7 linked regions of the Homo sapiens genome follow. The protein of the gene in region 1 interacts with the protein of each later gene in a pairwise test. Each region holds a gene or a part of one and is shown in the gene's direction. Other genes may lie near its edges. The genes, in order: DNM1L, ECH1, SH3GL1, MAGEA3, MAGEB6, PINK1 and SIRT3.

What was found.
Region 2: the proteins of DNM1L (region 1) and ECH1 come close enough for resonance energy transfer, tested with the Homo sapiens proteins (one large-scale study listed by BioGRID).
Region 3: the proteins of DNM1L (region 1) and SH3GL1 interact in a two-hybrid assay, tested with the Homo sapiens proteins (one study listed by BioGRID and IntAct).
Region 4: the proteins of DNM1L (region 1) and MAGEA3 interact in a two-hybrid assay, tested with the Homo sapiens proteins (one study listed by BioGRID and IntAct).
Region 5: the proteins of DNM1L (region 1) and MAGEB6 interact in binary tests that used the Homo sapiens proteins (3 or more experiments, as listed by UniProt).
Region 6: the proteins of DNM1L (region 1) and PINK1 come close enough for resonance energy transfer, tested with the Homo sapiens proteins (one study listed by BioGRID).
Region 7: the proteins of DNM1L (region 1) and SIRT3 interact in a two-hybrid assay, tested with the Homo sapiens proteins (one large-scale study listed by IntAct).

What each region holds. Positions count from the first base shown.
Region 1 is NC_000012.12:32,716,897-32,721,258, forward strand, and holds part of DNM1L (dynamin-1-like protein), read left to right. Parts: intron 1-1,746; coding exon 1,747-1,867; intron 1,868-3,767; coding exon 3,768-3,899; intron 3,900-4,362. UniProt on the Homo sapiens protein: Functions in mitochondrial and peroxisomal division.
Region 2 is NC_000019.10:38,814,922-38,819,220, reverse strand, and holds the end of ECH1 (delta(3,5)-Delta(2,4)-dienoyl-CoA isomerase, mitochondrial precursor), read left to right. Parts: intron 1-1,645; coding exon 1,646-1,770; intron 1,771-1,856; coding exon 1,857-1,905; intron 1,906-2,091; coding exon 2,092-2,156; intron 2,157-2,697; coding exon 2,698-2,768; intron 2,769-2,865; coding exon 2,866-2,937; intron 2,938-3,213; coding exon 3,214-3,364; intron 3,365-3,503; coding exon 3,504-3,608; 3' UTR 3,609-3,799; downstream 3,800-4,299. UniProt on the Homo sapiens protein: Isomerization of 3-trans,5-cis-dienoyl-CoA to 2-trans,4-trans-dienoyl-CoA.
Region 3 is NC_000019.10:4,359,490-4,363,029, reverse strand, and holds the end of SH3GL1 (endophilin-A2), read left to right. Parts: intron 1-293; coding exon 294-418; intron 419-644; coding exon 645-701; intron 702-1,233; coding exon 1,234-1,430; 3' UTR 1,431-2,660; downstream 2,661-3,540. Other genes in the region: MPND (MPN domain-containing protein), read right to left, coding at 3,028-3,114. UniProt on the Homo sapiens protein: Implicated in endocytosis. May recruit other proteins to membranes with high curvature.
Region 4 is NC_000023.11:152,697,045-152,701,872, forward strand, and holds the start of MAGEA3 (melanoma-associated antigen 3), read left to right. Parts: upstream 1-1,749; 5' UTR 1,750-1,785; exon of another isoform or gene 1,786-2,030; intron 2,031-2,161; exon of another isoform or gene 2,162-2,220; intron 2,221-2,261; exon of another isoform or gene 2,262-2,744; intron 2,745-3,513; exon of another isoform or gene 3,514-3,577; 5' UTR 3,578-3,643; intron 3,644-3,723; 5' UTR 3,724-3,788; coding exon 3,789-4,733; 3' UTR 4,734-4,828. UniProt on the Homo sapiens protein: Activator of ubiquitin ligase activity of RING-type zinc finger-containing E3 ubiquitin-protein ligases that acts as a repressor of autophagy. May enhance ubiquitin ligase activity of TRIM28 and stimulate p53/TP53 ubiquitination by TRIM28.
Region 5 is NC_000023.11:26,190,961-26,195,842, forward strand, and holds MAGEB6 (melanoma-associated antigen B6), read left to right. Parts: upstream 1-1,479; 5' UTR 1,480-1,567; intron 1,568-2,825; 5' UTR 2,826-2,886; coding exon 2,887-4,110; 3' UTR 4,111-4,686; downstream 4,687-4,882.
Region 6 is NC_000001.11:20,632,208-20,636,257, forward strand, and holds the start of PINK1 (serine/threonine-protein kinase PINK1, mitochondrial precursor), read left to right. Parts: upstream 1-1,250; 5' UTR 1,251-1,341; coding exon 1,342-1,728; intron 1,729-4,050. UniProt on the Homo sapiens protein: Serine/threonine-protein kinase which acts as a sensor of mitochondrial damage and protects against mitochondrial dysfunction during cellular stress.
Region 7 is NC_000011.10:216,622-219,889, reverse strand, and holds part of SIRT3 (NAD-dependent protein deacetylase sirtuin-3, mitochondrial), read left to right. Parts: intron 1-289; exon of another isoform or gene 290-848; coding exon 849-1,058; coding exon of another isoform or gene 1,059-1,112; intron 1,113-3,171; coding exon 3,172-3,192; 3' UTR 3,193-3,268.

The sequences.
Region 1 (4,362 bases):
TTAACATGGTTAAACACCTAGGAATGGGACTGCTAATTTAACTTTATAAGAAACTGCCAGACTGTTTCCCAAAATGACTACACCACTCCCACCAGCAACGTGTGAGAGTTCCAACTGCTCTGCATAGTGTACAATTTTACCTATGGTATTTTTCAGTTACAAATATATATACATAGGTATATATATATATTTTATATATATATTTTATATATTTATATATATTTTATATATATACCTATGTATATATATTTGTAACTGAAATATATATACTATAAAATATATATAGTATATACTATATATATTTATATATACTATAAAATATATAGTATATATTATATATATTTTATATATAGTATATATAGTATATATATACTATATATTATATATACACTATATATTTTATATATACTATATATTATATATACACTATATATTTTATATATACTATATATTATATATAGTATATATAATATATATACTATATATAATATATAGTATATATAATATATAATATATATTTTAAATATATACTATATATATTTTAAATATATACTATATATATTTTAAATATATAGTATATATATTATATATATATAGTATATATATATATTTTAGACGGAGTCCTGCTCTGCATAGTGTACAATTTTACCTATGGCATTTTTCAGTTACAAATATATATACCTAGGTAGATATATATATAAAAAATACATATACCTAGGTAGATATATATATAAAAAATACATATACCTAGGTAGATATATATATAAAAAATACATATACCTAGGTAGATATATATATAAAAAATACATATACCTAGGTAGATATATATATAAAAAATACATATACCTAGGTAGATATATATATAAAAAATATATATACCTAGGTAGATATATATATTTGTAACTGAAATATATATACTATAAAATATATATAGTATATACTATATATATTTTATAAATATACTATATATAGTATATACTATATATATTTATATATACTATATATAGTATATATATAAAATATAGTATATATTTTATATATATATAAAATATAGTATATATAGTATATATATTATATATAGTATATATAGTATGTATAGTATATATAATATATATAGTATATATATTATAAATATATACTATACATACTATATATACTATACATATTTTATATATATACTATACATATTTTATATATATACTATATATATTTTATATATAATATAGTATATATATTTTATATGTATAGTATATATATATATTTTAGATGGAGTCCTGCTCTGTCACCCAGGCCGAAGTGCAATGGCACGATCTCAGCTCACTGCAACCTCTGCCTCTCGGGTTCAAGCAATTCTCCTGCTTCAGCCTCCCGAGCAGCTGGGATTACAGGCGTCTGCCACTGTGCCTGGCTAATTTTTGTATTTTTAGTAGAGATGGGGTTTTACCATGTTAGTCAGGCTGGTCTCAAACTCCTGATCTCAGGTGATCCACCCGCCTTGGCCTTCCAAACTGCTAGAATTACAGGTGTGAGCCACCGTGCCCGGCAAAAATGTTTTAAAAAATTATACACAATGTTTAACATTATTTTTAAAAAAGCACTGGTAAGTAAGGCATTACCAAAATGATGACAGAGGTAATACTAAGTGGGATTGTAGATGAGGGTTTTCCTTTATTAACACTAAATAGTTGTATTTAATGGATCATTTTCTTTCTTTTCTTTGCCCTTTTTTCTTTTTGCATTTACCAGGTCGCAGAACCCTAGCTGTAATCACTAAACTTGATCTCATGGATGCGGGTACTGATGCCATGGATGTATTGATGGGAAGGGTTATTCCAGTCAAACTTGGAATAATTGGAGTAGTTAACAGGTTAGCAGTTAGAATGGGATAAGAATTGGGATAAGCATTCTTAGAATGGGATAAGCATTCTCACTTCAGAGCAAGTCTGAATTTCTAAAATCTGTTTGAAATGTGATGCTGTACTATATTTTTTCTCCCTTTTATTATGATCTTGGTATTGCTAAAGAATCCGTTGCCCTAAAGGGAGAAAAGAGAGAGAATTTTTTTTTTTTTTTGAAATAGGGTCTCTCTCTGTTGCCTAGGCTGGAATGCAGTGGCGTGATTGTGGCTCATTGTAGCATCAACCTCTGGGCTCAAGTGATCCTTTCACTTCAGCCTTTCAAGTAGCTGAGACTATAGGTGTGTATCACCACACCTGGCTAATTTTAAATTTTTTTGTAGTGACAAGGTCTTGCCATGTTGCCCAGGCTTGTCTCGACTTCCTGGGCTCAAGCAATCCTCCAACCTTGGTTTCCCAGGTGCTGGGATTACAGGCATGAGCCACTGTGCCTGCCCCATAGACATTTTTACTGGAAAATGTTTCTAAAGTAAGCAATACCACAAAATGGAAGAAATGTTGTAATAGCCAGGCTTTAAGAATTCTTGCCTATCATGTTAAGCTATGTATGAGGAGGTACTGGGTAAGGGAAAAATTATCTAATGTGCACCCAATCGAGAAAGAGTTTAAGGTGGCAGGATTTTAATAGATTGGTTTTAATCCCTGGCATTAGTGATGCTTCTGTGTAATTGCCAGGATGTGACTTGGAGAAATTGTATTAAAGGTATCCTAATTTATAAATAGTTGGTATTAAAAACTGGGAAAAGGAAACTAGTATTGAGTGTCTAATTAAAGGTGACAAGATTTTAATAGATTGGTTTAATCCCTAGCATTAGTGATTCTGTGTAATTGCCAGGATGTGACTTGGAGAAATTTTATTAAAGGTATCCTAATTATAAATAGTTGGTATTAAAAATCGGGAAAAGGAAATTATTATTGAGTGTCTAATTACGTTTTAGACACTCTACTGTGAGCAATTTGCAAATGGTATCTCTTGGAATCCTCACAGCATCCCCTGAGGTAGGTGTTGATGTCTATTTTATAATCAGAAACCTCAGGTTATACATTTAACCAAAAGTCACGTGGGTAGTGAAAGAGCTGGATTCGGATGAATATCTCTTTTAGTCCAAAGCCTTCATATGGTAGGAAACACTGAAATTATCATGAAATCTGAGTTATAGTCCTAGTTCTTACATAAACTAGATACAACGTAGGTTTAAATGACACCTAATGTCTTTGGGTCTCAAGCCTTTAGAAAATGAAAATGTTTTTACTGCCTGATACATAAGATCCATTCCAGTTGTCTGCTTCTATTTTAATGTCCTTCCATTCCAACCCTACTGTCATTCTCCCATCCCCACTGTCATTCTCCCATCCCCACTCCCAATTCCAGCTGTCTCCTTTTTCAGGTAAGGAGGTGGCCTAACACTGTTCGTTGTTTGTAGATGATTGTTCTTCAAGTTAACTTAATTATTTTTGGGAGAAATTAGTTCCCTGTCCATGGATAAAATATACAGTTGACTAAGATACTCTTATATTTTTATACCTGTCTATACCTGTTACTTATTGTTTTTGTCTATAGTTAATGGTAATAATGAGGCCTACTCTATTTAGGCACTAGTTACTTACAATTCACTTAGTTCAAGTCTTGGCTATGCCAGTTAGTGTGTGACCTGGGGTAAGTTAGTTTTTGTGAGCCTCAGTTCCTTGCTATACAATGGGGTAATAATACCTGCCACATAAAATTATTGTGAGAATTAAATAAAACAGTCCCTGTCAGGTATTAGAGAACAATGCCTGGTGCTGTCATCATCTAAGGTAGGAAGAGGACAACAGTTAAGCTGAATAGTTTCGTTATTTTTTCAACCTCAGGAGCCAGCTAGATATTAACAACAAGAAGAGTGTAACTGATTCAATCCGTGATGAGTATGCTTTTCTTCAAAAGAAATATCCATCTCTGGCCAATAGAAATGGAACAAAGTATCTTGCTAGGACTCTAAACAGGTAATTTTTTTACCTTTTGGAAATGAGATGTGTTTGTTTTTACCAATTGGTGTCTGAGAGGGTTCATTTTCAGTTCCTTACATTTTCATACTGTTCCTAACAGCTTCACTTATGGTTTCTTATATAGTAGGTTCCTGAAGAGTAGATGTCTCTGTTTTTATTGGGGTGGTTGACATTACATCATCACGTAGTCTAGAATGAATGTACAAGTGATTTTAAAATGTTTTAATTACGAAAATTTTGACAGTTAATTTAGTTTTGTGGCTAGAACTAGAGATGACTTCATTTCCACTTTGCATTTCAGGAACTGATTAAAATTTGTAATTTTCACATTATCTATTCTTACCTTAGAATGTGTTTTATTTACCAGGAAAGGGAGATGGAAAAACAAAGAAATAGAATGTCTTTTATTTCTATTCACTGTAGAAATAACTATACGTTGGATTCTGAATACCCACTGATG
Region 2 (4,299 bases), on another chromosome or scaffold:
AATGAGAAGATTCTGTACCACTGCACAGCCCTCAGGCAGTGATCTGGATCCTATTTCCACTTGTCTTTTCACCTCTCTGTCCTGCCATTTTCTTTTCTTTTTATTTTTTATTTTTGAGCCAGGGTCTTGCTCTGTCGCCCAGGCTGGAGTGCAGTGGTGCGATCATAGCTGACCGCAGCCTCCAACTCCTGGGCTCAAATGCACGTGCCCGCACACACACACACACACACACACACACACACAGAGTTGGAGACCAGTGTGCCCAAAGTAACAGGTTGGGAACAGTGCACACACACACACACACACACACACACACACAGAGTTGGAGGCCAGTGTGCCCAAAGTAACAGGTTGGGAACAGTGTTCATGCAGGGTAGTCATGACAAGGACGTTCCATTTTGTTCTAAGAGCCACAGGTGGGAAAAAGAGGGTCTGGGCCGGGCACGGTGGCTCACGCCTGTAATCCCAGCACTTTGGGAGGCCGAGGTGGGTGGATCACAAGGTCAGGAGTTTGAGACTAGCCTGGCCAACATGGCAAAACCCCGTCTCTACTAAAAATACAAAAATTAGCCGGGCATGGTGGTGGGCGCCTGTAATCCCAGCTACTTGGGAGGCTGAGGTAGGAGAATCACTTGAACCGGGAGGCGGAGGTTGCATTGAGCCGAGATCCTGCCACTGCACTCCAGCCTGGGCGACAAGAGCGAGACTCTGTCTGAAATAAAAAAAATAAAATAAAAAAAAAGAGGATCTGACCCAAGAAGGTGTCCACTGGCTTCCCCTGGCTGCCTGTAGGGAATAGACTGGGGACACAGGTGGAAACAGGGAGAGCAGGGTGGGCTCATGGAGAACAACTGATGCAGGAAAGGTCAGATTCAGGATCATCTTGAAGTTGGAGCCACAGAAATTGCTGCATCGTGAGATGTTTCTCATCTCAGGAAACATCACCACCATTGACTGCATTGCTCACGCTGCAGACCTTGAGTCCCAGGCTGTCTGGCATCTTGGGGAAAAGCATGGCCTCTGGAGCCAGCTGCATGGTTCCAGATTTTAAAATCCTACTTCTGATGCGGCATGGTGGCTCACACGTGTAATCCCAGTGCTTTGGGATGCCAAGGTGGGAGGATCGCTTGAGCCCAGGAGTTCAAGAGCAGCCTCGGCACAGTCCCAGCCACTCAGGAGGCTGAGGTGGGAGGATTGCTTGAACCTGGGAGTTCGAGGCTGCAGTGAGCCATGATCGTGCCACTGCACTCTAGCTGGTATAACAGAGTGAGACCCTGTCTCTAAAAACATTAATGAGTTAATTTAAATAGTTCATTACTCACTACTCACCAGCCAGTGTGACCCCCTTGGGCAAGTGCTTAACCTCTCTGTGCCTTAGTTTACCCATTGGTAACACAAATAGTAATAGGACCTAGCTGGTACGGTTGCTGTGAGGATTCTGTGAGTAATGACTCCACAAATATTAGCTTTTATTTCCTTCCCACCCAACATGCAATCAATCCCTCACCAAGTCCTGTGTGAGTTGTTTTTTTTCCGCCTTGGTGGTTTGGGGGTTCGAACCTGCTGTGCCTGGGTTCTGATCCCTGGTTGAGTCAATGGGTGGGGCCTGGGAGCCTGGATGAGCTCCATCATGCCTTCTCACCAGGTATTGACCTGATGGACATGGCTTCGGACATCCTGCAGCCCAAAGGAGATGATGTGGCCCGGATCAGCTGGTACCTCCGTGACATCATCACTCGATACCAGGAGACCTTCAACGTCATCGAGAGGGTGACTCTAGGGGTCTGGAGGGGATCTTTCTCCATACGCGCCTCCCCTGGGCCAGCCCTGACCCCACTCTTCCTGTTCCCTCTCAGTGCCCCAAGCCCGTGATTGCTGCCGTCCATGGGGGCTGCATTGGCGGAGGTGAGTCTGCGGCTATCCTCCTGCTCGGGTGCTCCCCAGGTGGGGCTGCTGCTCCGATGCCGCGGCCACTGGCATCCAGCCTCAGCTCTGTCATGGGCCAGACTGTGTCCCAAGAGGCAGCCCCACCTCCCGGGAGCCAGGGTTGGTTCTGGTGGTCATTCAGCATCCCTGGCCTCTACCTCCTAGGTGTGGACCTTGTCACCGCCTGTGACATCCGGTACTGTGCCCAGGATGCTTTCTTCCAGGTGAAGGTGAGTCATCCTCCCGAGCTCCTGCTTAGAGCTGGGCAGTGGGGTGAGGTTGGGGGGCCTGGAGTGAGCCTCGAGGGCTTCATGGAAGAGTCGGAGTTGAACCCGACAAAGTAAGACTTGCCCATAGAGGAAGTCAAGAGGTGAAGTTGTGAGTGGGTAAGGTATGAGGTGGGGTTGAGGCTGGCAGGTGTCAGAGGCAGAGATTGCTCCTGGGGCCATACTGGTGAGGGTGGGAGGCAGGATGGAGCCGGGGGATGCAGTAAAGGGGTCTCAGGTAGGGTGAGGAGGGTTCCTCTCTCACAGATGGAGCTGCCCTGAGGGAATGGGAGGGTGCATGAGTGGGAAGGTGGGCTCTATTCTAGGTTGAAGGAACTTGCCTGAGTCAAGAAGCTGCCTGGGCAATGGAATGGGACTTTGGAGGAAGTCACTGGGGTGAAGGTGGGGCGGGACTCTCCAGTAGACATGAAATTTCATGGACGTTGACATTGCGAGGGGCACAGTATTGGGCAGAAACCAAACACTGACCCGATTCCTCCCCCAGGAGGTGGACGTGGGTTTGGCTGCCGATGTAGGAACACTGCAGCGCCTGCCCAAGGTCATCGGGAACCAGAGGTGGGTGCAGGGGGTGTGGGGGTGTGGGCAGGAGACCCCAGAGCATCTCCCAGCCCCGGGGTGGCAGCCGCCTCCTGATGCACGCTTGCCTTTGCAGCCTGGTCAACGAGCTGGCCTTCACCGCCCGCAAGATGATGGCTGACGAGGCCCTGGGCAGTGGGCTGGTCAGGTAGGGCCATGGCCGTGGTAGCTCAGTGCTGGGGGCAGCCAGGCCTGGAGGGTTGGAGGCCTCTCCGGGTCCCCTTGTCTCCTCGCTCTAGAATTCCTAGTGGCATCCTTTCTTGGTGAGCTCATTTCTTTATTGTGGGGTCAGCCCCCTGCTCTGATTGGGCTGTTTCTCTGGGGTCTTGGGCCTTCCTCTGTGAGTGGCCACTTCTTCATCTGCGGGAGGCTGGAGGAGAGAGCCCTTCCCAGCCCACCCGGTCCCTGATCTCTTTCACTGCAGCCGGGTGTTCCCAGACAAAGAGGTCATGCTGGATGCTGCCTTAGCGCTGGCGGCCGAGATTTCCAGCAAGAGCCCCGTGGCGGTGCAGAGCACCAAGGTCAACCTGCTGTATTCCCGCGACCATTCGGTGGCCGAGAGCCTCAACTACGTGGTAAGGTGCACGCTCCGACCAATCACAGCCCTCCTCTAACCCCAGGCGACCAACCAGGGTGCAGGGTGCTCTCATGCTTTATCCTGATTGGCCCCTGCTAATCTCTCTCCTCGTTCTCTCTCAACACCCTCGGTACCAGGCGTCCTGGAACATGAGCATGCTGCAGACCCAAGACCTCGTGAAGTCGGTCCAGGCCACGACTGAGAACAAGGAACTGAAAACCGTCACCTTCTCCAAGCTCTGAGAGCCCTCGCGTCCCAGGCCCCAGCCAGGGGGCCGGCCTTGTCCCGCCTCATCCACAGAAAGGGAGGATGGGCGATGACAGTTGTTTCTATGCCTTCTGACCCAGTTTCCCAGTTTATAACTTTATGACAATGAGTTTCTCAAGCCCAAGGCCTTATCTTCACCCCACAAACAATAAAGCAAAGTAAAGAACCTGGTGCCCTTCTTGGATAGAGGAGAGGTGGGAGGGGCTGGGATGCACCTAGGGGCTCCAGAGACTGCAGTCCTGAAGGCTGGGGCTAGAGGTTGGATGCATGGGAATGGGTGGCATGGAGGTGATGGCCATTCAGACTGGCAGCGGGCAGGCGAGGGGCACAAGGAATTCCGGGGCGGAGGGAGTGAGCAAAAGTCGCTGGGGTCCCTCTGGGTTGCAAGGCTTCCTGGTCTCCCTGCCTGCCCTGGGGTTGAGGGTGGCGTTCGTGCCCTGCCTGGCACCTCTCACTGCACAGCACATGGGATCTGATGCTGGCGTCTCACACCTGTAATCCCAGCACTTTTGGAGGCTGACGCAGGTGGATTGCCTGAGCTCAGGAGTTTGCAACCAGCCTAGTCAACATGTTGAAACCCAGTCTCTACTAAAAATACAAAAATTAGCTAGGTGTGGTGGCAGGTGCCTCTAGTCCCAGCTACTCGGGAGGCTGAGGCAGGAGAAT
Region 3 (3,540 bases), on another chromosome or scaffold:
GGGGAATTGGGGGAGGAGGCAGGGGATGCGACTGGGGGTGTTGTAGGTAGATGCTGTGGCAGGCCCCAGCTGCTTGGCAATCTCTGGGATGCCTCCAAGGTGGGGGTCCAGGCTGGAGGCCCTCTGGGTAGACATCCCAGTCTAGCTGTGTCCCAGGGTCCATGTGTCACAACCCCACTGACGGCCTCTTCCTGCAGTCCCAGGCCAGGTCATTAGGCAGCAGCATAAATACAAGAGTGGGGCTGCCTCGGCCGTGACACGGGCTCGGTCCACTCACGCCTCTCCCTTCACAGGATGCGGGAAGCTTCCTCACGCCCTAAGCGGGAGTATAAGCCCAAGCCCCGGGAGCCCTTTGACCTTGGAGAGCCTGAGCAGTCCAACGGGGGCTTCCCCTGCACCACAGCCCCCAAGATCGCAGGTAATGGGGCATGGAGCCCTCTTGCGGAGGCAAATGCCAGCGGGTGGGAGTGGCCAAGGGCTGGCCCTGTCCTGGGTCTCTGAGCGCCAGACTCCTGGGTGCAGCTCTCAGCCGTGCTCCATCTGGACCGCCAAGGCAGACGGGAAGGGCTGGCCCCAGCCTTCTGCAGAAGGGGCCCTGCCCGACCGTTTTGAGCCCACAGCCTCCTCGTTTTGCTTGTGTTTAGCTTCATCGTCTTTCCGATCTTCCGACAAGCCCATCCGGACCCCTAGCCGGAGCATGCGTGAGTGTTCCCAGGCCCGCCTCGACCTCAGTGCTGCCTTCTCGGCCATTCGGGGAGGGTGTTTCTCCTCCCGCCCTGTTCTCTGCCCATCTCAAGCAGGGAGGGGCCAGGCTCGTGCAGCAGTAGGGGGCACAGGCCCCACAGCCTGCAAGATGCCACCCCTCTGGGTCTCAGCCTCACAGTGTGAATGAGGGATTGCCAAGGGCACTAGCCCAGCTAGCTCTAGGCTGTGTGGTGGCTACAAGGGCTTGAGGGCATCTGGTCACTCCCTGTCACCGCAGCAGCACCGGGTGTCCCCAGCACTTCCCAGGAGTAGCTTTGGTGACCACTTAAACCAAGCTTCTCCCATCCTCCCTCCTGGGTGGCAGTAGAGGCCGGACCCCAGAAGTGGCAGGGGCAGGGGGTGGCCCAGGCAGGGCAGAGGGGAGGCCCATGCCCACCCACACGCTCCAGGTCACAGCAGGTCTGAGACCCCAGACTGGGCGGGGTGAGGCGTAGCAGCCCCAGCCCCACAGCCCGCTCCCGCCCCCAGCGCCCCTGGACCAGCCGAGCTGCAAGGCGCTGTACGACTTCGAGCCCGAGAACGACGGGGAGCTGGGCTTCCATGAGGGCGACGTCATCACGCTGACCAACCAGATCGATGAGAACTGGTACGAGGGCATGCTGGACGGCCAGTCGGGCTTCTTCCCGCTCAGCTACGTGGAGGTGCTTGTGCCCCTGCCGCAGTGACTCACCCGTGTCCCCGCCCCGCCCCTCCGTCCACACTGGCCGGCACCCCCTGCTGGGTCTCCTGCATTCCACGGAGCCCCTGCTGCCAGGGCGGTGTCTGAGCCTGCCGGCGCCACCTGGGCCCCGGCCCTTGAGGTACTCCCTGAGCAGGACCCCACACTTGGGTGGGGGGGCTTATCTGGGTGGGTGGGGATGCCTGTTTACACTAGCGCTGACTCCCAACGGTGACGGCTCCCTTCCCCACTCCATGGCGCCAGCCTCCTCCCCCGCTCCCCAACTTCTCGCCCAGCTGGCCGAGGCGGGGCAACACTAAGGTGCTCTTAGAAACACTAATGTTCCTCTGGGGCAGCCCCCACCTCCGTCCTGACCCGACGGGGGCCCGGCCCACTGCCTACCCTCGAGTCCCGCAGCCTTAACAGGATGGGATCGAGGGTCCCCATGGGGTGGCTCAGAGATAGGACCCTGGTTTTAAATCCCTCCCAGCCTGGTGCTGGTGATGGGCCCTGGCCCTACTCCAGGGCCAATGCACCCCCGCCTCACACACGCACTCCTTCTCCTCAAGGCCAGGGCAGAGGGCCTCACCGCCTCCCGGGCCTGCTGTCAGCTTGCAGCCCGGGGACAGAGGCCAGCTGGGATCTGCCTGAGGACAGAGAACATGGTCTCCTGCAGGGCCCTGCCTCCCAAGCCCCGCCCTCAGAAAGCCAAGTACCTTTTCAGCTTTTTAACTGCCCCCATCCCAACCCAGGGAGGCCTGTGTCACTCTGGCACAAGCTGCCACCACCAGCCACCCACACCCACCCCAGCACACCTCACACGGGACCACAGCCGCGCTGCCGAGGGCCAAGCACAAAGGTTCCAGTGAGCGCATGTCCCAGCCCCTGGTGGCCAGGCTCCCCTTGCTGAGCCGCTGCCACTTCACCCTGTGGGAAGTGGCCCCAGCCATCTCCTCTAGACCAAGGCAGGCAGCCCCGACATCTGCTTCCTCTATCGCCCAATGCAAAATCGATGAAATGGGGAGTTCTCTGGGCCAGGCCACATTCACATTCCCCTCCCCCTGTGGTCCAGTGAAGCCTCCGGACCCCAGGCTCTGCTCTGCCCTGCCCTGCACCCCCCTCGTCAGAAGTACATGAGGGGCGCAGAGATGAGCACACAGCTTTGGGCACGGTCCAGGGCAAACTGAAATGTACGCCTGAATTTTGTAAACAGAAGTATTAAATGTCTCTTTCTACAGCCCCTTGCCTCGTCTTGGTGCAGGGGTGGGCCTGCCACCCACCGCCTTCCTGAGGGGCCGGCTCCAAAGCCACACACACCCCAGGAGGTCCCTCCAGCACCCCAGGTGCTCCTGAGCCCAAGGTGGGTGGGACTGGCCCTGAGGCTTTTGTGCCAGTTCCCAGGTGCAGGGGCTGAGGGGTATCCTGGAAGTTAATGCCCTGCCCTGGAAGTGAGGAAGCTGGGGTGATGGTACCAGCCTGGGCACCCAGCCACCCTCACCCCAGCCTTGGGGAGACCAGCGTGGCTGGCTGCTGCTTCCGTTTCTTTATTACCTGAGCCCATCCGGACCCTCAAGACAACTGGAGCCCACCCTGCCCTGGAAGGCTCAGCTCCCCTGCTTGAGGACGCCGCACACCTGTTCCAGGACGTGACACAGGCTCTGGTCCTTGGGCGTCCTGCTGGCCAAGGAGATCTGAAACGAGGGGGCTGGGCCTCAGGCTGTGCCCGGGGGTCCTAGCCAGCCCTGCGCCTCACAGTCCACCGTGCAAGTCCAGCATCCTGACTGAGCCCCCCTGAGACCGAGGCACAGGGCTGGGGTCCCGCAGCACAGCCTGCTGCTTACCCAGTGGGGCAGTATGTAACCGAGGGCCTGGCTCCCAGGGGCAGCGGTGCTGTGTGGAGGGGTGGGGCTTATGTGCACACTCCCGATCCTGCCCCCACTTCAGCCCCTCCCTGCCTGGTTCCAGACACCCATGGGGACACCACAGCCTCCACAGCTAGCCGAGAGCTGAGCAGAATGAGTCCCTTTCTATGCCAGGTGGAGGGAAACCAGGAACCACTACCCTAAGACACTCAGGGGTGGCCAGGACCCTGGGCCCTCTGCAGGGGAGCCACTCCC
Region 4 (4,828 bases), on another chromosome or scaffold:
CAACAGCAAACATACTTAAATGCAAAACGTTCGAATAATTATCATTCACGTCAGGAACGAGAAGTAGATGTAGGCTATTATCTCTACGATTGAAATCAGGATTGAGACACAAAGAGCTATAAGTACCAAAATGAGTAAGTGGTATGAATACTGGAAGAATATGTAATGTTTAGTGATAATACCATTATCGATCTTGAAAATTCAAAGGAAAAGGTATGTGGAATATTCAAGTGCATCGGCCTTCAGAACGAGGAGTGCAACAGATTACTACAGCAAAATCAAAATCTTCACCTCACGAAAGCAATAACTAACTACAACAATTAATAGACAATATGCCATTTGCAATAGCAACAAAATTCATGAATTGCCTGAAAAGAAGTCTAATAAAAATGTATAAGGTCTTTATAGAGACAACTGTCGAAGTATACTGACATATTCAGGTAAAAAAAAGCTTGAAATACATAGAGGAGTATAACATATTCATTCATGGGGAGCACAACACTGTAAAAATGTAAACTCAGCTTAAATTATTTACAATTTAGTGCCTTACCTGTAGCCGCCGCCATTACAACAAATTTGGGCTGCTGTGCTCTGCTTCCCAAATCAAACCTGGAAAATTACAGAATGGAAACAGTAAATAAAAAACCAGTATCAGCAACAAAATCTACGCAACAAAACAGGGAAAGCCCAGGGTGAGACTCAAGGCTGTGTTGAGCTGGTACTTGTGTTTGACACTTGCAGTGTTGGTTGGAGGGGGTTAGCAGCAGGGATGTTGGGGAGGTTTGTAGCCGGCCTACACGGTAGATGACAGAATGGGTAGAATAAAAGTTTGAAATTTTCCACTTCACTTCTTTGCACAATCTGAGGCAGCCTCTGAAAACACGATGCCAAGAGCCCTAGGTAATAGCAGGACACCAGGAAAATTTGGTTGGTTAAGGCAGTATGACTCCAGAGTTCTGCTAATAACAACCTGAAACCACCATAGTGGCAGAGGAATTACATTTTTAAAAAAAAAAAATTCTTTCAACAGAACACAAAGACTGAAATAGGAGGTCACTACAACCGCGGGAGCTGCCGCCCCGCCCTGCAGGGAGCACCTGGCCTGGGACCCGCAGGCATTCTCTACAAGGGGTGCAGCTGTGCAAATGCTCACAGGTGACAGAAACAGAGCATCTCCTGCCCATCACTTCATCCAACAGCCAGAGGTGACGAAGACGACCCTCCTGAGTGAGGACTGAGGGTCCACACCGCCCCCCCACCCCACACACCATAGAGGGACCACAGAATCCAGCTCAGCCCCTCTTGTCAGCCCTGGTAAACGCAGGCAGTGATGTCACCCAGACCACACCCCTTCCCCCAATGCCACTTCAGGGGGACTCAGAGTCAGAGACTTGGTCTGAGGGGAGCAGAAGCAATCTGCAGAGGATGGCGGTCCAGGCTCAGCCAGGCATCAACTTCAGGACCCTGAGGGATGACCGAAGGCCCCGCCCACCCACCCCCAACTCCCCCGACCCCACCAGGATCTACAGCCTCAGGACCCCCGTCCCAATCCTTACCCCTTGCCCCATCACCATCTTCATGCTTACCTCCACCCCCATCCGATCCCCATCCAGGCAGAATCCAGTTCCACCCCTGCCCGGAACCCAGGGTAGTACCGTTGCCAGGATGTGACGCCACTGACTTGCGCATTGGAGGTCAGAAGACCGCGAGATTCTCGCCCTGAGCAACGAGCGACGGCCTGACGTCGGCGGAGGGAAGCCGGCCCAGGCTCGGTGAGGAGGCAAGGTAAGACGCTGAGGGAGGACTGAGGCGGGCCTCACCTCAGACAGAGGGCCTCAAATAATCCAGTGCTGCCTCTGCTGCCGGGCCTGGGCCACCCCGCAGGGGAAGACTTCCAGGCTGGGTCGCCACTACCTCACCCCGCCGACCCCCGCCGCTTTAGCCACGGGGAACTCTGGGGACAGAGCTTAATGTGGCCAGGGCAGGGCTGGTTAGAAGAGGTCAGGGCCCACGCTGTGGCAGGAATCAAGGTCAGGACCCCGAGAGGGAACTGAGGGCAGCCTAACCACCACCCTCACCACCATTCCCGTCCCCCAACACCAACCCCACCCCCATCCCCCATTCCCCATTCCCATCCCCACCCCCACCCCTATCCTGGCAGAATCCGGGCTTTGCCCCTGGTATCAAGTCACGGAAGCTCCGGGAATGGCGGCCAGGCACGTGAGTCCTGAGGTTCACATCTACGGCTAAGGGAGGGAAGGGGTTCGGTATCGCGAGTATGGCCGTTGGGAGGCAGCGAAAGGGCCCAGGCCCTCCTGGAAGACAGTGGAGTCCTGAGGGGACCCAGCATGCCAGGACAGGGGGCCCACTGTACCCCTGTCTCAAACCGAGGCACCTTTTCATTCGGCTACGGGAATCCTAGGGATGCAGACCCACTTCAGCAGGGGGTTGGGGCCCAGCCCTGCGAGGAGTCATGGGGAGGAAGAAGAGGGAGGACTGAGGGGACCTTGGAGTCCAGATCAGTGGCAACCTTGGGCTGGGGGATGCTGGGCACAGTGGCCAAATGTGCTCTGTGCTCATTGCGCCTTCAGGGTGACCAGAGAGTTGAGGGCTGTGGTCTGAAGAGTGGGACTTCAGGTCAGCAGAGGGAGGAATCCCAGGATCTGCAGGGCCCAAGGTGTACCCCCAAGGGGCCCCTATGTGGTGGACAGATGCAGTGGTCCTAGGATCTGCCAAGCATCCAGGTGAAGAGACTGAGGGAGGATTGAGGGTACCCCTGGGACAGAATGCGGACTGGGGGCCCCATAAAAATCTGCCCTGCTCCTGCTGTTACCTCAGAGAGCCTGGGCAGGGCTGTCAGCTGAGGTCCCTCCATTATCCTAGGATCACTGATGTCAGGGAAGGGGAAGCCTTGGTCTGAGGGGGCTGCACTCAGGGCAGTAGAGGGAGGCTCTCAGACCCTACTAGGAGTGGAGGTGAGGACCAAGCAGTCTCCTCACCCAGGGTACATGGACTTCAATAAATTTGGACATCTCTCGTTGTCCTTTCCGGGAGGACCTGGGAATGTATGGCCAGATGTGGGTCCCCTCATGTTTTTCTGTACCATATCAGGTATGTGAGTTCTTGACATGAGAGATTCTCAGGCCAGCAGAAGGGAGGGATTAGGCCCTATAAGGAGAAAGGTGAGGGCCCTGAGTGAGCACAGAGGGGATCCTCCACCCCAGTAGAGTGGGGACCTCACAGAGTCTGGCCAACCCTCCTGACAGTTCTGGGAATCCGTGGCTGCGTTTGCTGTCTGCACATTGGGGGCCCGTGGATTCCTCTCCCAGGAATCAGGAGCTCCAGGAACAAGGCAGTGAGGACTTGGTCTGAGGCAGTGTCCTCAGGTCACAGAGTAGAGGGGGCTCAGATAGTGCCAACGGTGAAGGTTTGCCTTGGATTCAAACCAAGGGCCCCACCTGCCCCAGAACACATGGACTCCAGAGCGCCTGGCCTCACCCTCAATACTTTCAGTCCTGCAGCCTCAGCATGCGCTGGCCGGATGTACCCTGAGGTGCCCTCTCACTTCCTCCTTCAGGTTCTGAGGGGACAGGCTGACCTGGAGGACCAGAGGCCCCCGGAGGAGCACTGAAGGAGAAGATCTGTAAGTAAGCCTTTGTTAGAGCCTCCAAGGTTCCATTCAGTACTCAGCTGAGGTCTCTCACATGCTCCCTCTCTCCCCAGGCCAGTGGGTCTCCATTGCCCAGCTCCTGCCCACACTCCCGCCTGTTGCCCTGACCAGAGTCATCATGCCTCTTGAGCAGAGGAGTCAGCACTGCAAGCCTGAAGAAGGCCTTGAGGCCCGAGGAGAGGCCCTGGGCCTGGTGGGTGCGCAGGCTCCTGCTACTGAGGAGCAGGAGGCTGCCTCCTCCTCTTCTACTCTAGTTGAAGTCACCCTGGGGGAGGTGCCTGCTGCCGAGTCACCAGATCCTCCCCAGAGTCCTCAGGGAGCCTCCAGCCTCCCCACTACCATGAACTACCCTCTCTGGAGCCAATCCTATGAGGACTCCAGCAACCAAGAAGAGGAGGGGCCAAGCACCTTCCCTGACCTGGAGTCCGAGTTCCAAGCAGCACTCAGTAGGAAGGTGGCCGAGTTGGTTCATTTTCTGCTCCTCAAGTATCGAGCCAGGGAGCCGGTCACAAAGGCAGAAATGCTGGGGAGTGTCGTCGGAAATTGGCAGTATTTCTTTCCTGTGATCTTCAGCAAAGCTTCCAGTTCCTTGCAGCTGGTCTTTGGCATCGAGCTGATGGAAGTGGACCCCATCGGCCACTTGTACATCTTTGCCACCTGCCTGGGCCTCTCCTACGATGGCCTGCTGGGTGACAATCAGATCATGCCCAAGGCAGGCCTCCTGATAATCGTCCTGGCCATAATCGCAAGAGAGGGCGACTGTGCCCCTGAGGAGAAAATCTGGGAGGAGCTGAGTGTGTTAGAGGTGTTTGAGGGGAGGGAAGACAGTATCTTGGGGGATCCCAAGAAGCTGCTCACCCAACATTTCGTGCAGGAAAACTACCTGGAGTACCGGCAGGTCCCCGGCAGTGATCCTGCATGTTATGAATTCCTGTGGGGTCCAAGGGCCCTCGTTGAAACCAGCTATGTGAAAGTCCTGCACCATATGGTAAAGATCAGTGGAGGACCTCACATTTCCTACCCACCCCTGCATGAGTGGGTTTTGAGAGAGGGGGAAGAGTGAGTCTGAGCACGAGTTGCAGCCAGGGCCAGTGGGAGGGGGTCTGGGCCAGTGCACCTTCCGGGGCCGCATCCCTTAGTTTCCACTGCCTCCTGTGA
Region 5 (4,882 bases), on another chromosome or scaffold:
AAAATTTACTGAAAGACTTAGGAAAAATAAATCTCCAATAAAGCAGTGTACTATGTTTATTTACTGTGGAGGAGATATTGTAAAGTTATTGATTCTCCTTAAATTTTTTACAGATTCATTGCCTTAGCCATAGCTGTGAAGATGACAACCAAACCCGGGTGGTTCTTTCCCATGACCAAACTCAACCATAGAAAAGTTAAAGGAAGAATTTTTTTTTAAAAAAAAAGCAGTATTAACAACAGCAAAACAACAAAAATGCGAACCTTGAGAGATGGTCAGTTTGTATTGAACAAGAATGGGTGTGTGGGCAGGTAGGGGCATGAGCTGAAGTAGAGACAGGTCTGTGGCCTACAACAGACGCAGATAACGGAATTGGCTAGAGGAAAAGCTTTAAAACTTTGGTCTTTGCTTCTTTCACTGTGCCATTGGACAATGCATTTTTTTTTCTGCTTCACTAAAGGAAATTCAGTCAGAAACTTGGACCCTATGTGCCAGTTCCATGGGGTAATATTGCCACAGCAAAAACATCTGGGTAGGCTGAAGAAGTATGAATCCAGACACTGTGCTAATAACTACCTGAAACTTCTTTAGTGGAAGTGGACTGGCCTTTAAATTCGTATTATTTTAATATAATATAAAGAATGGACTAAATTAGGATAGCAAATATTGCAGTGAGTCACACAAGATAATGGTAGAAATTCATTCATGAAGGTGTTGAATACAGACACTGATGTCAGCCAAGAGAGAAGTCCCAGACATAGCTATCAGGCTAAGAAGTCTTCTCACTTTCTCCTTATGAATTTTACAGGATCTAGTCAGAGGAAGGGGATGAATTTACATCAGAAAATGGAGAAAACTGAGACCCTGCCAGCAGTCAATGTGAGGACCCTGAGTGAGGACTGAGGGGCTCCACATATCAGAAGAGACAAGAGTGCCCCCCAAATCTCCCTTCATTCCCCGATCTTGCATCACAACTTAATAGCAGCAGCCAGGTTTAGGAGGCCCCAGGCAGTAGTGGCCAGGTGAGGTGTAACTGAATTGCACATGAGGAGTCTCAGGAAGTTGAAGTCTAGTCTGAGAGGGTGTCCTCAAGTCAGTAGAGGGGACATGGCAAGAATGAAGCGACGACACTGAGTGAGGGCTGAGGGCAAAGTCCATTCCAAAAAGGGGGTCTCACAGAGCTCCACCCCTACTGTCAGTCTTGGAAGGTCCCGGCATGGCTCCCGAGCTCAGGCTGCACCTTACTTCCAACTCTGGACTCTCAGGGAATGAGAGCCTCTATCTCCGGTTGACTGATTCAGCTCAACAGATAGAGAAGTCCAAGGGTCCGCGAAGAGCCCCTGAAAGAACTTTACGTGAGTTCCCTGGAATCTGCTGCACCCACAGAACACAAGGGGGAGTAACAGAGCCCTGCAGCTACTGTTACGCAGGGAGCGCCAGGTGGGCGTGGCCGGAAGTGGTTCCTCTTGACTTCCACCTAATAAAGGGGTCTGAGCCGGTCGCCTGAGCCTGAAAAGTGCTGTCACGTCAGCGGAAGGAGGCGTCCCAGATCTTCTCAGCTGTCTTGGTGGGTATCCTGACCTAGAACGGGGGGCATTCCCCGACAACTTCAACCCCCTTCCCCCGAAGAAAGGCGGCTCCACAGAGCCCTGCCCCAACCTGCCCCGACCTGGTCCCTGAGGAGTCCCCAAACATGGCTGTTAGGCCCAAAGTCCATTCATTTTTTTCCGTCGTGTTGAAGAACATGAAGGCCTCGGTCCAAGGCTTGTGGACCCAGGTCAGTAGAGGGAGAAATCTCAGGCCCTACATAGTTAAGAGGACCCTCCTTAGAATTGAGGGAGGGGATTCCATGTCCCGTAACGGGTTGCACCGAACTCTGCCCTTGACGTTAGCCTGGGGGTCCGGGCAGGTCTCTAGAGACTGAGGTGCATTCTCACTTTGTCCCTGTGAGAGTCAGAGAGGTAGGCCCCTGGTTGTAAGGAGATGGCAGCAGGTCAGTGAGGGTGATTTCCAGGTTGTGGGAAGAGTCAGGGTGAGGAGTCTAATTACTGTGAGGAGCATTCTCACTATAACTGGAAGAGCACTCAAATGCCTCCGCTGTTGTCAGCCCTAGGTGGTCTGGGTGTCCCCGGAATGAAGTGTTGGGCAGAAGTGCTTCCTTATTTCCTCCGGGTTAAAATTCCTACTGTCAATTTCAGAGTGGCACAAGGAAATGGGCCTCTGGGTCTTGTCAACAATTTTTTTTTTATTATACTTTAAGTTTTAGGGTACATGTGCACAATGTGCAGGTTTGTTACATATGTATACATGTGCCATGCTGGTGTGCTGCACCCATTAACTCGTCATTTAGCACTAGGTATATCTCCTAATGCTATCCCTCCCCCCTCCCCCCACCCCACAACAGTCCTCGGAGTGTGATGTTCCCCTTCCTGTGTCCATGTGTTCTCACTGTTAACTTCCCACCTATGAGTGAGAACATGCGGTGTTTGGTTTTTTGTCCTTGCGATAGTTTGCTGAGAATGATGGTTTCCAGTTTTAATGATGATCCTGAATGTAAACAGAGAGGATCCAACCCCTGAACAGAGGGGCCCCCACTGCCAGCCCCTGCTGTCACCTCAGTAAGCCCCAAAATGGGCTGTCATGCTATAGTCTAATACTCTAACTTCCTCCTGAGTTTGAAGGAGACAAACTGACCAGGAGAAAAGGAGTCCTGTGGGTTCCTAGAGCAGCTGTTCTGCGGAAACCTGCAGAAGGGGCCCTAGTTAAAGCCAAGATGGTCGCTCTCTGCTGAAGATATTGACGTGACGTCACTCTCTCCCATCCAGGTGCCAGCCTTCCTAGTCTTCCTACCCACACTCCTACCTGCTGTCACAGGCCACAGCCATCATGCCTCGGGGTCACAAGAGTAAGCTCCGTACCTGTGAGAAACGCCAAGAGACCAATGGTCAGCCACAGGGTCTCACGGGTCCCCAGGCCACTGCAGAGAAGCAGGAAGAGTCCCACTCTTCCTCATCCTCTTCTCGCGCTTGTCTGGGTGATTGTCGTAGGTCTTCTGATGCCTCCATTCCTCAGGAGTCTCAGGGAGTGTCACCCACTGGGTCTCCTGATGCAGTTGTTTCATATTCAAAATCCGATGTGGCTGCCAACGGCCAAGATGAGAAAAGTCCAAGCACCTCCCGTGATGCCTCCGTTCCTCAGGAGTCTCAGGGAGCTTCACCCACTGGCTCTCCTGATGCAGGTGTTTCAGGCTCAAAATATGATGTGGCTGCCAACGGCCAAGATGAGAAAAGTCCAAGCACTTCCCATGATGTCTCCGTTCCTCAGGAGTCTCAGGGAGCTTCACCCACTGGCTCGCCTGATGCAGGTGTTTCAGGCTCAAAATATGATGTGGCTGCCGAGGGTGAAGATGAGGAAAGTGTAAGCGCCTCACAGAAAGCCATCATTTTTAAGCGCTTAAGCAAAGATGCTGTAAAGAAGAAGGCGTGCACGTTGGCGCAATTCCTGCAGAAGAAGTTTGAGAAGAAAGAGTCCATTTTGAAGGCAGACATGCTGAAGTGTGTCCGCAGAGAGTACAAGCCCTACTTCCCTCAGATCCTCAACAGAACCTCCCAACATTTGGTGGTGGCCTTTGGCGTTGAATTGAAAGAAATGGATTCCAGCGGCGAGTCCTACACCCTTGTCAGCAAGCTAGGCCTCCCCAGTGAAGGAATTCTGAGTGGTGATAATGCGCTGCCGAAGTCGGGTCTCCTGATGTCGCTCCTGGTTGTGATCTTCATGAACGGCAACTGTGCCACTGAAGAGGAGGTCTGGGAGTTCCTGGGTCTGTTGGGGATATATGATGGGATCCTGCATTCAATCTATGGGGATGCTCGGAAGATCATTACTGAAGATTTGGTGCAAGATAAGTACGTGGTTTACCGGCAGGTGTGCAACAGTGATCCTCCATGCTATGAGTTCCTGTGGGGTCCACGAGCCTATGCTGAAACCACCAAGATGAGAGTCCTGCGTGTTTTGGCCGACAGCAGTAACACCAGTCCCGGTTTATACCCACATCTGTATGAAGACGCTTTGATAGATGAGGTAGAGAGAGCATTGAGACTGAGAGCTTAAGGCAGGGCTGGCACTATTTCCTTGGCCAGGGTACCTTATGGGGCCATATCCTACAGATCCTCCCATTTCTAGGGAGGTCTGAAGTAGAATTTTCACTTTATGTTAGAAGAGAGTAGTGAGCTTTCTAAGTAGTGCAGTATAGTAGAGGCTGGAGGGAACAAGATATGTATCTTTCTTTTGTTACACATGAGTAACTTGCAGATTTATGTTTTATCTCTGTCAGTTATCAACATTGTTCCTGTTAAGTGAAGGTTTATTTTGCTTCAGATTATACAATTATCAATAACATAGCTCTCACATTCATGGCTGTTTAACCAATCTGAAAGTTACGGTTTGGGAATTAATAAAACAAAGTCATACAACACATTTTCTTTGTAATTGAGAACTAGATAACATGGTAACAGAGAATTGATTTTCATATGAATCTTAACTCCACAGTAAAATAGTTGACATCATAATATGAAGAGAAAGAAAAGGAAAAACAGAAATGTAAAAGTTGTTTAATTCTTGGTTTGCCTAATTCGTTTTCCTATTTCTTTTCATACAAATAAAGGATACCTGGATTTATTTAGGTTATTAAGACTGCCGTTAGTTTGTTTTGTTCTAGTGCACTTCATATTCCATGTTATCTACTGCATCAAAAAACCCCTCTGATTGGAGGGTGGTATTTTCTGGGTTTAAAATAATCACATGAAATGCAGTGATCAATATAAGCCAGAATGAGTTCACTAAAAACCTTTTTGAAACAAGGCTGCTAAATTCAAAGAACTTC
Region 6 (4,050 bases), on another chromosome or scaffold:
CTCACTACAACTTCCACCTCCTGGGTTCAAGCGATTCTCCTGCCTTAGCCACCTGAGTAGCTGGGATTACAGGCGTGTGCCACCACGCCCAGCTAGTTTTTGTATTTTTAGTAGAGATGGTGTTTTGTTGGCCAGGCTGGTCATGAACTTCCGGACTCAAGTGATCCACCTGCCTCAGTCTCCCAAAATGCTGGGATTACAGGCTGTGAGCTACCACACCCGGCCAACCAAGTTGACTTCTGATTAACCAGCTTTTAGGGAAGGCCTCTAAGATTTCCAGTTTATCTATTGTTCCTTGTGTAAAAGTATGTACTTACCATAAATCCTGCCCTTAGGCAGATTCACACAGCATTCTTGCCTTTCCCTGGGGGACTGACTTCAAATGTCCGTCACATTCCTTTCCTATAGCATATAGGCCCTGGGTCTTGGGGGTAATGGCATGGGGATCCACCATCTTGTCTCCCTGCCGCTGAAGCCAGAGACTATGGCTTCTGTTCATAAATCCCTTTCTCCTTAAATATGAAGTCAAAGGTCATGTAGATAGGAGCTGCTGCTGAAGAAGGGATTTTTTGTCTGAAGAGTTCTGTCCCCTGGGCTTACTTGGCTATGGGGTGGACCCCTGGCCAGGAGACAGCAAACTGTTTCAGTAATGTGCGTGTCGTGCGTGTGTGTGTTCTGTGGTGAGCAGGCCTATGCCATTAAACAAACGGTGTGGCTTTGGGCAAGCTGCTATCTTGGGACCTCAGCACACTCATTCATAAATTGTGTCTTTTGGGTGAGATTTGTCTTGGGGTCTTCAAAACCCCTGAGACTGTGGACACATACAGCAGCCTAACGGCATTGAGGAGGGCAAGCATTCAACAGTTAGGACAATGTGAACTGTAGCTCAGCTCTGCTAGGTACCTTCACAAGACCTCGAATGCTGCCCCTTACTATGCCTCGGTTTTCTTATCTATAAAAACGGCATTTTTATCTTGTTGGTGGAGCTGTTAAATAAATTAAAAGACGTAAAGGGTCTGGCACCATGGTTGGCAAAAAATATCAGTTTCCCTTCTCGACTTCTCGATTTTGCCCAGGACCAGTGATGTTCACATTCAGGACCTGCCTGAACCGGCAAGCCCTCCACGTGGGTCCAAAGTGCAAAGGGAAAGTCACTGCTAGAGGCGCCAGTACCAGCATAGCGCCCCCACGCGCCGAGTCGGGGAACTGCCGCGGGGGCCGGCCCCGCCCACCAGCGCCTGCGCCTGCGCAGAGGCACCGCCCCAAGTTTGTTGTGACCGGCGGGGGACGCCGGTGGTGGCGGCAGCGGCGGCTGCGGGGGCACCGGGCCGCGGCGCCACCATGGCGGTGCGACAGGCGCTGGGCCGCGGCCTGCAGCTGGGTCGAGCGCTGCTGCTGCGCTTCACGGGCAAGCCCGGCCGGGCCTACGGCTTGGGGCGGCCGGGCCCGGCGGCGGGCTGTGTCCGCGGGGAGCGTCCAGGCTGGGCCGCAGGACCGGGCGCGGAGCCTCGCAGGGTCGGGCTCGGGCTCCCTAACCGTCTCCGCTTCTTCCGCCAGTCGGTGGCCGGGCTGGCGGCGCGGTTGCAGCGGCAGTTCGTGGTGCGGGCCTGGGGCTGCGCGGGCCCTTGCGGCCGGGCAGTCTTTCTGGCCTTCGGGCTAGGGCTGGGCCTCATCGAGGAAAAACAGGCGGAGAGCCGGCGGGCGGTCTCGGCCTGTCAGGAGATCCAGGTGAGCGGGGCCGGGTCCTAAGCCGAGCGGAGGACGGAGCTAAGCGCGGGGGCGGGTCCTCAGCTGGGTGGGGGCGGGGCTAGGTGTGGAGGCGGGGCTCTGAGCAGATCGAGGGCCGAGGCGAGGGTCCTTAAAGCTCATCTATTTCACCATTACTGATCGGCTGCTATAAATAAAGCCAGCACCTCCCATTTGTTTTAATGTTTCCCTTCCTCAAATGAAGACATGTTGCCGATTACAGCTCCTGTCGCAGCACAGCAAAAGGCTTTGTGTAAATTTTCTAAAATGTACGGACAACTAAATCATAACATTCCTATCCCTTTGAGGTAGTTGCCGTCCCTAATTTATGGAGAAGGAAAGTCCTCAGGTGAAGGGACTTGCTCGAAGTCACACAGCTAATAAAATGCAGTGCCCTTAACCACTGAGCCAGGCTGCCTCCGCCGTTTAACCAAAGGATTAGTAGTGACAGAGCTGAAACCGCAGTAAAAACTATGAACGGCGAGAAAAACAGTCCTAACATTTTAGTTACCTGTGTAGAGTTATCCCTGCTGACTGGATACACAAGGGTTCTTAGGGTTTTTTAATGCTTAAAATAGCACAAGACTTCTCTTTTTGCCCAACCAAAGTCTGTATTAGGGTTCTCCAAATGGAATCAATAGGATGTGTCTATATAGAGGCAGGTTTATTTTGAGGACCTGGCTCCCTATGGGGATTGGCAAAGTCTTAAAAGCCGCAGAGTAGGCGGGCAGGCTGGAGAGCCAGGGAGGAGCCAGCGGTGCAGTTCAGGTTTGAAGCCTGGCCGCTGGCAGAATTCCATCTTCTTCCAGGGAGGTCACTCTTCTTCCTGGGGGTGTAGAACCACTCACTAAATTAGCATAGCCCCTGCATTTTACAGGTTAGGGCTGAGGTGGTGGAAGAGGGAGTGACTTGCCCAAGGACACAGCTGTTAGGGCCAAGCAGTGGCTCCTGGGTTTCCTGGTTTCCATCCCAGTTCTTATTGCTCATCACCACTGTCTCATGTTTGAGCTCTGGCCAGTTTGGGGTGACAGGTGACATCTGGCCTAGTCCCCAGCCCCTGACCTTGTCTTTTGCCACAGCTTAACTGGCAGAAGCTAAGGATGGGAAATTTGACTAATCCTGCTTAAAACTAAAGAGGCTTTTTTAACTGAGGAGATTGATCCTCCTAAACTTACCATTCACACACACCTTCTTCGCACACTTCACCCTCCTATGCCTGAAAATGTTATTAGTTATCAATTAATTTCACATTAAAAAAATTTTTTTTGGTCAGGCACTGTGGCTCATGCCTGTAATCCCAGCACTTTGGGAGGCTGAGGCGGGCGGATCACGAGGTCAGGAGTTTGAGACCAGCCTGGCCAACATGGTGGAACCCTGTCTCTACTAAAAATACAAAAATTACCCGGGCGCAGTGGTGGGCGCCTGTAATCCCAGCTACTTGGGAGACTGAGGCAGGAGAATTCCTTGAACCCGGGAGGCGGAGGTTGCAGTGAGCTGAGATCACGCCACTGCACTCCAGCCTGGGTGACAGAGCAAGACTCTGACTGGGGGGAGAAAAAGTTGTTTTCACTGGCTACTTTTGCTGGAATTAATTTCACATTTAAAAAATTCTGGGCCGGGCGGGGTGGCTCATGCCTGTAATCTCAGCACTTTGGGAGGCCAAGGCGGGCGGATCATGAGGTCAGGAGATCGAGACCATCCTGGCTAACATGGTGAAACCCCGCCTCTACTAAAAATACAAAAAAATTAGCCAGGCATGGTGGCAGGCGCCTGTAGTCCCAGCTACTCGGGAGGCTGAGGCAGGAGAATGGCGTGAACCCGGGAGGCAGGGCTTGCAGTGAGCCAAGATCGCGCCACTGCACTCCAGCCTAGAGGACAGAGTGAGACTCCGTCTCAAAAAAAATAAAAAATAAAAAAATAAAAAATTCTGAAGCCAGGCATGGTGACTCATGCCTATAATCCTGGTGCTTTGGGAGGCCAAGGTGAGAGAATCTCTTGAGCCCAGGAGTTGAAGACCAGCTGGGACAACATAGTGAGACCTTGTTCCCACAAAATATTAAAAAGTTAGCTAGGCATGGTGGCACATGCCGATAGTCCCAGCTACTTAGGAGGCTGAGGTGGGTGGATTGCTTGAGCCCAGGAGTTTGAGGCTGCAGTGAGCTGTAGTTGCAACACTGCACCCCATCCTGGGCAACTAGCAGGAGTGTGCTAGTAGCAAGCTCTAAAAATTTATATTATAAAAATATATATATAATGTGTATATATATGTATATGTGTATATATGTTGTGTATACTATAATATGT
Region 7 (3,268 bases), on another chromosome or scaffold:
TACATAGTAGTTTTATGTAGATACCGAGATAATAGTATTTACATAGTCAGATCTGTCATTTTCCTTTGCCTTATCTGACTTCAGTTTTTACGCCTAGAACGTTCTTCCCTATCCTTACTTGTAAATCCTTAGTTTTCTTCAAGAACTGTTTTGTTTACATTGAAACCTTTAATCCATTTGAATTTTTTTCAGTGGGAGGTAGGAATGGAGTATTTTCCTCCCAGATAATGAGCCAGTTTTAATGCCATTTATTAATGTATCCATTTTTTTACCTTGTTCCTCTTAAAAGAAGCTTTGAGAGCTGTATGAAGAAGCCTGATGGCACCGAGCTAGGCCTCTCTAGAGGCTGGGTGGGGAAGACCATGGAGAGACGTAACAGTAACTCCTGCTCGGGGGCACCAGCTCGTCTGGGTGCCCGATGCTGGTGGTGGCTGTCAGAGCAAGCAGGGCTAGCCAGAGGAGATGGACGAGTCTGTGCTGTTGTCCCTCTGCGTCATGCTGGGAGACAGCGAGGTGGGGAGGACAGGGAGAACAGAACGTGCTCACAAAGAGGAGGCAGGAAGGTTGGATCCCTGATGAGCCTTGGAACGGAGGTGGGGAAAAGCAAGGATGTGTGGAAACAGCAAGAAGTGGGAGAGAGAGAGAGAGGCGGAGGGGAGAAAACCGTCACGGAGGCCAAGCGGCAGGAGCTCAGCTGAAGAAATGAGATTGGTGGTGGGTTTTCCCTATATCGCAGGCTCTGACTGCCAATCTGCTGCTCCTCCAAGGCCTCGGTGGCTGTGGCATGAAACATCCTGAGGAGCTTGTAAAGTGGACACTGTGCCCCTCACGTTTGGCCCATTTTTCAGGTGGAGCCTTTTGCCAGCTTGACCGAGGCCGTGCGGAGCTCAGTTCCCCGACTGCTCATCAACCGGGACTTGGTGGGGCCCTTGGCTTGGCATCCTCGCAGCAGGGACGTGGCCCAGCTGGGGGACGTGGTTCACGGCGTGGAAAGCCTAGTGGAGCTTCTGGGCTGGACAGAAGAGATGCGGGACCTTGTGCAGCGGGAAACTGGGAAGGTACAGACTGCTGAGGAGGACCATCCAAGGGGCTGCCCTTCTCACTGCTCTAGGGTATGGTCCACCTGATATGGAGCCCCGTTGGTTAACACAGTAACAGTAATAGCTGATGATGCTGTGAATCCTGCACCAGGCACTACCTGGACCTGACTGGGTGTTACTTTCAATACCTCCATTTAGAGATGAGGAAACAGATGCTAACAGGCCAAGCAGGGACACGGTCCAGACACTCAGGGCTGATGAGTCTGTATTCTTAACAGACTATAGGCGTTACCTTCACTCCCTAAAATAAAGCAGCCAACAGTGTCCCTCTAAGGCCTGGTATGTGATTCTAAGATGATACGGGTTAAAGAACTTTGAGAAGCTAAAGTTCTCTGCATCTATGTGGGATGAAGGCTACATGAGTGATGCTTTTCGGAAGTAATTGGTATGAGAGCCATTGATCAATTATAATCCGCTGAGGAAAGCCAAAGAGCCTTGATGCTTTCTAAGAGATTTCAAACCGCCTATAAACAAGTGAAGTTACAGAAAATGCAGTTTCCCATAAGAATCATGTAGCATGTGTAGCCTTGATATTAAGGGTTTTCAATGGGAGGTGGTAGCATTAAGCATTTAAAGTCCAGTGTCATGATTACAGGCAGGTGTAACACTGTCCAAAGGGGATTTCACCAGTGTATTAGTCTGTTCTCTGGCTGCTCATAAAGGCATACCTGAGACTGGGTAATTTATAAAGGAAAGAGGTTTAATGGACTCACAGTTCCATATGGCTGTGGGGGCCTCACAATCATAGTGGAAGGCAAAGCAGGAGCAAAGTACTGTCTTACAAGGTGGCAGGCAAGAGGACGTGTGCGGGGGAACTGCCCTTTATAAAACTATCAGATCTTGTGAGACTTATTCACTATCAGAAGAAGAGTGTGGGAAAGACCCGCCCCCATGATTCAGTTACTTCCACTTGGCCCCACCCTTGACACATGGGGATGATTACAATTCAAGGTGAGATTTGGGTGGGGACACAGCCAAACCATATCAACTACAATATATCACAGTTGATGCTCCTCTTGCCTTCCAAGGCAGATGTCTTAGGAAATCCTGATCCTTTTTCCTTGTCCACAGCTGTGGCTGCCTCATGGCTCAGGGCCATGGGGTCAGCACTCTCCTCACCTCCACCAGTCCAAGACCTCCAACCTCTGGTTGCAGGCTGATTTTTTACCAATCATGGTCACTTCATTATGGAGGCAGGGAACCCAGCTAACAATGAGGCTTAAACGCTGAGAGGCGAGTGCCTCCTGGCCAGCTCACAAGGCAGCGGAGATCTTAGATCAGCCCAGCAGGCTTTTTTGAGGGATCCTTTTCCTGCTCCAACTTCATATTTTCTTTTTTTTGTAATGGAGTTTCACTCTTGTTGCCCAAGCTGGAGTGCAATGGCACGATTTTGGCTCACTGCAGCCCTGCCTCCTGGGTTCAAGTGATTCTCCTGCCTCAGCCTCCTGAGCAGCTGGGATTACAGGCATGTGCCACCATGCCTGGCTAATTTCTGTACTTTTATTAGAGATGGGATTTCATCATGTTAGTCAGGCTGGTCTCAAACTCCTGACCTCGGGTGATCCACCTGCCTCAGCCTCCCAAAGTGCTGGGATTATAGGCATGAGCCAGCAGGCCCGGCCCAACTTCCTGTTTTCATAGAAAAGCAGATTGTAACTCTGGTAGCTCCTGTGGAGTTTTGGAAGTGGCTTAATAGGATTTGAACTGTATAATCTAGTTTCAGAGAAATGTATGTAAAATGGGTTATGATTTCATTTTCTGTTTTTTACAGCATTACTATCCAAGGGGTTACTTTTCCAAATAGTGAATGCTTTTAAGCACATGAGCATCAGTACATATTGATTTGGGTACTTTAAGACCCATAGAATGAGGCTCTCCATTTAGCCACCCTGTTCTGCCCAGGCCTGCTGGGATCCTCTTAGCCCAGCACAGCAGCAGCAGTATTTGCAGAAAGCAGCTTGTTTTGTGAAATATTTTGCATGTCTGCAGCTAGAGCTGTTTGAACAGAGATCTGCTGGCCTGCCTGGGTGTGTAAACAGATAGCTGATACCCTCTGTCTTCTGTATTCCAGCTTGATGGACCAGACAAATAGGATGATGGCTGCCCCCACACAATAAATGGTAACATAGGAGACATCCACATCCCAATTCTGACAAGACCTCATGCCT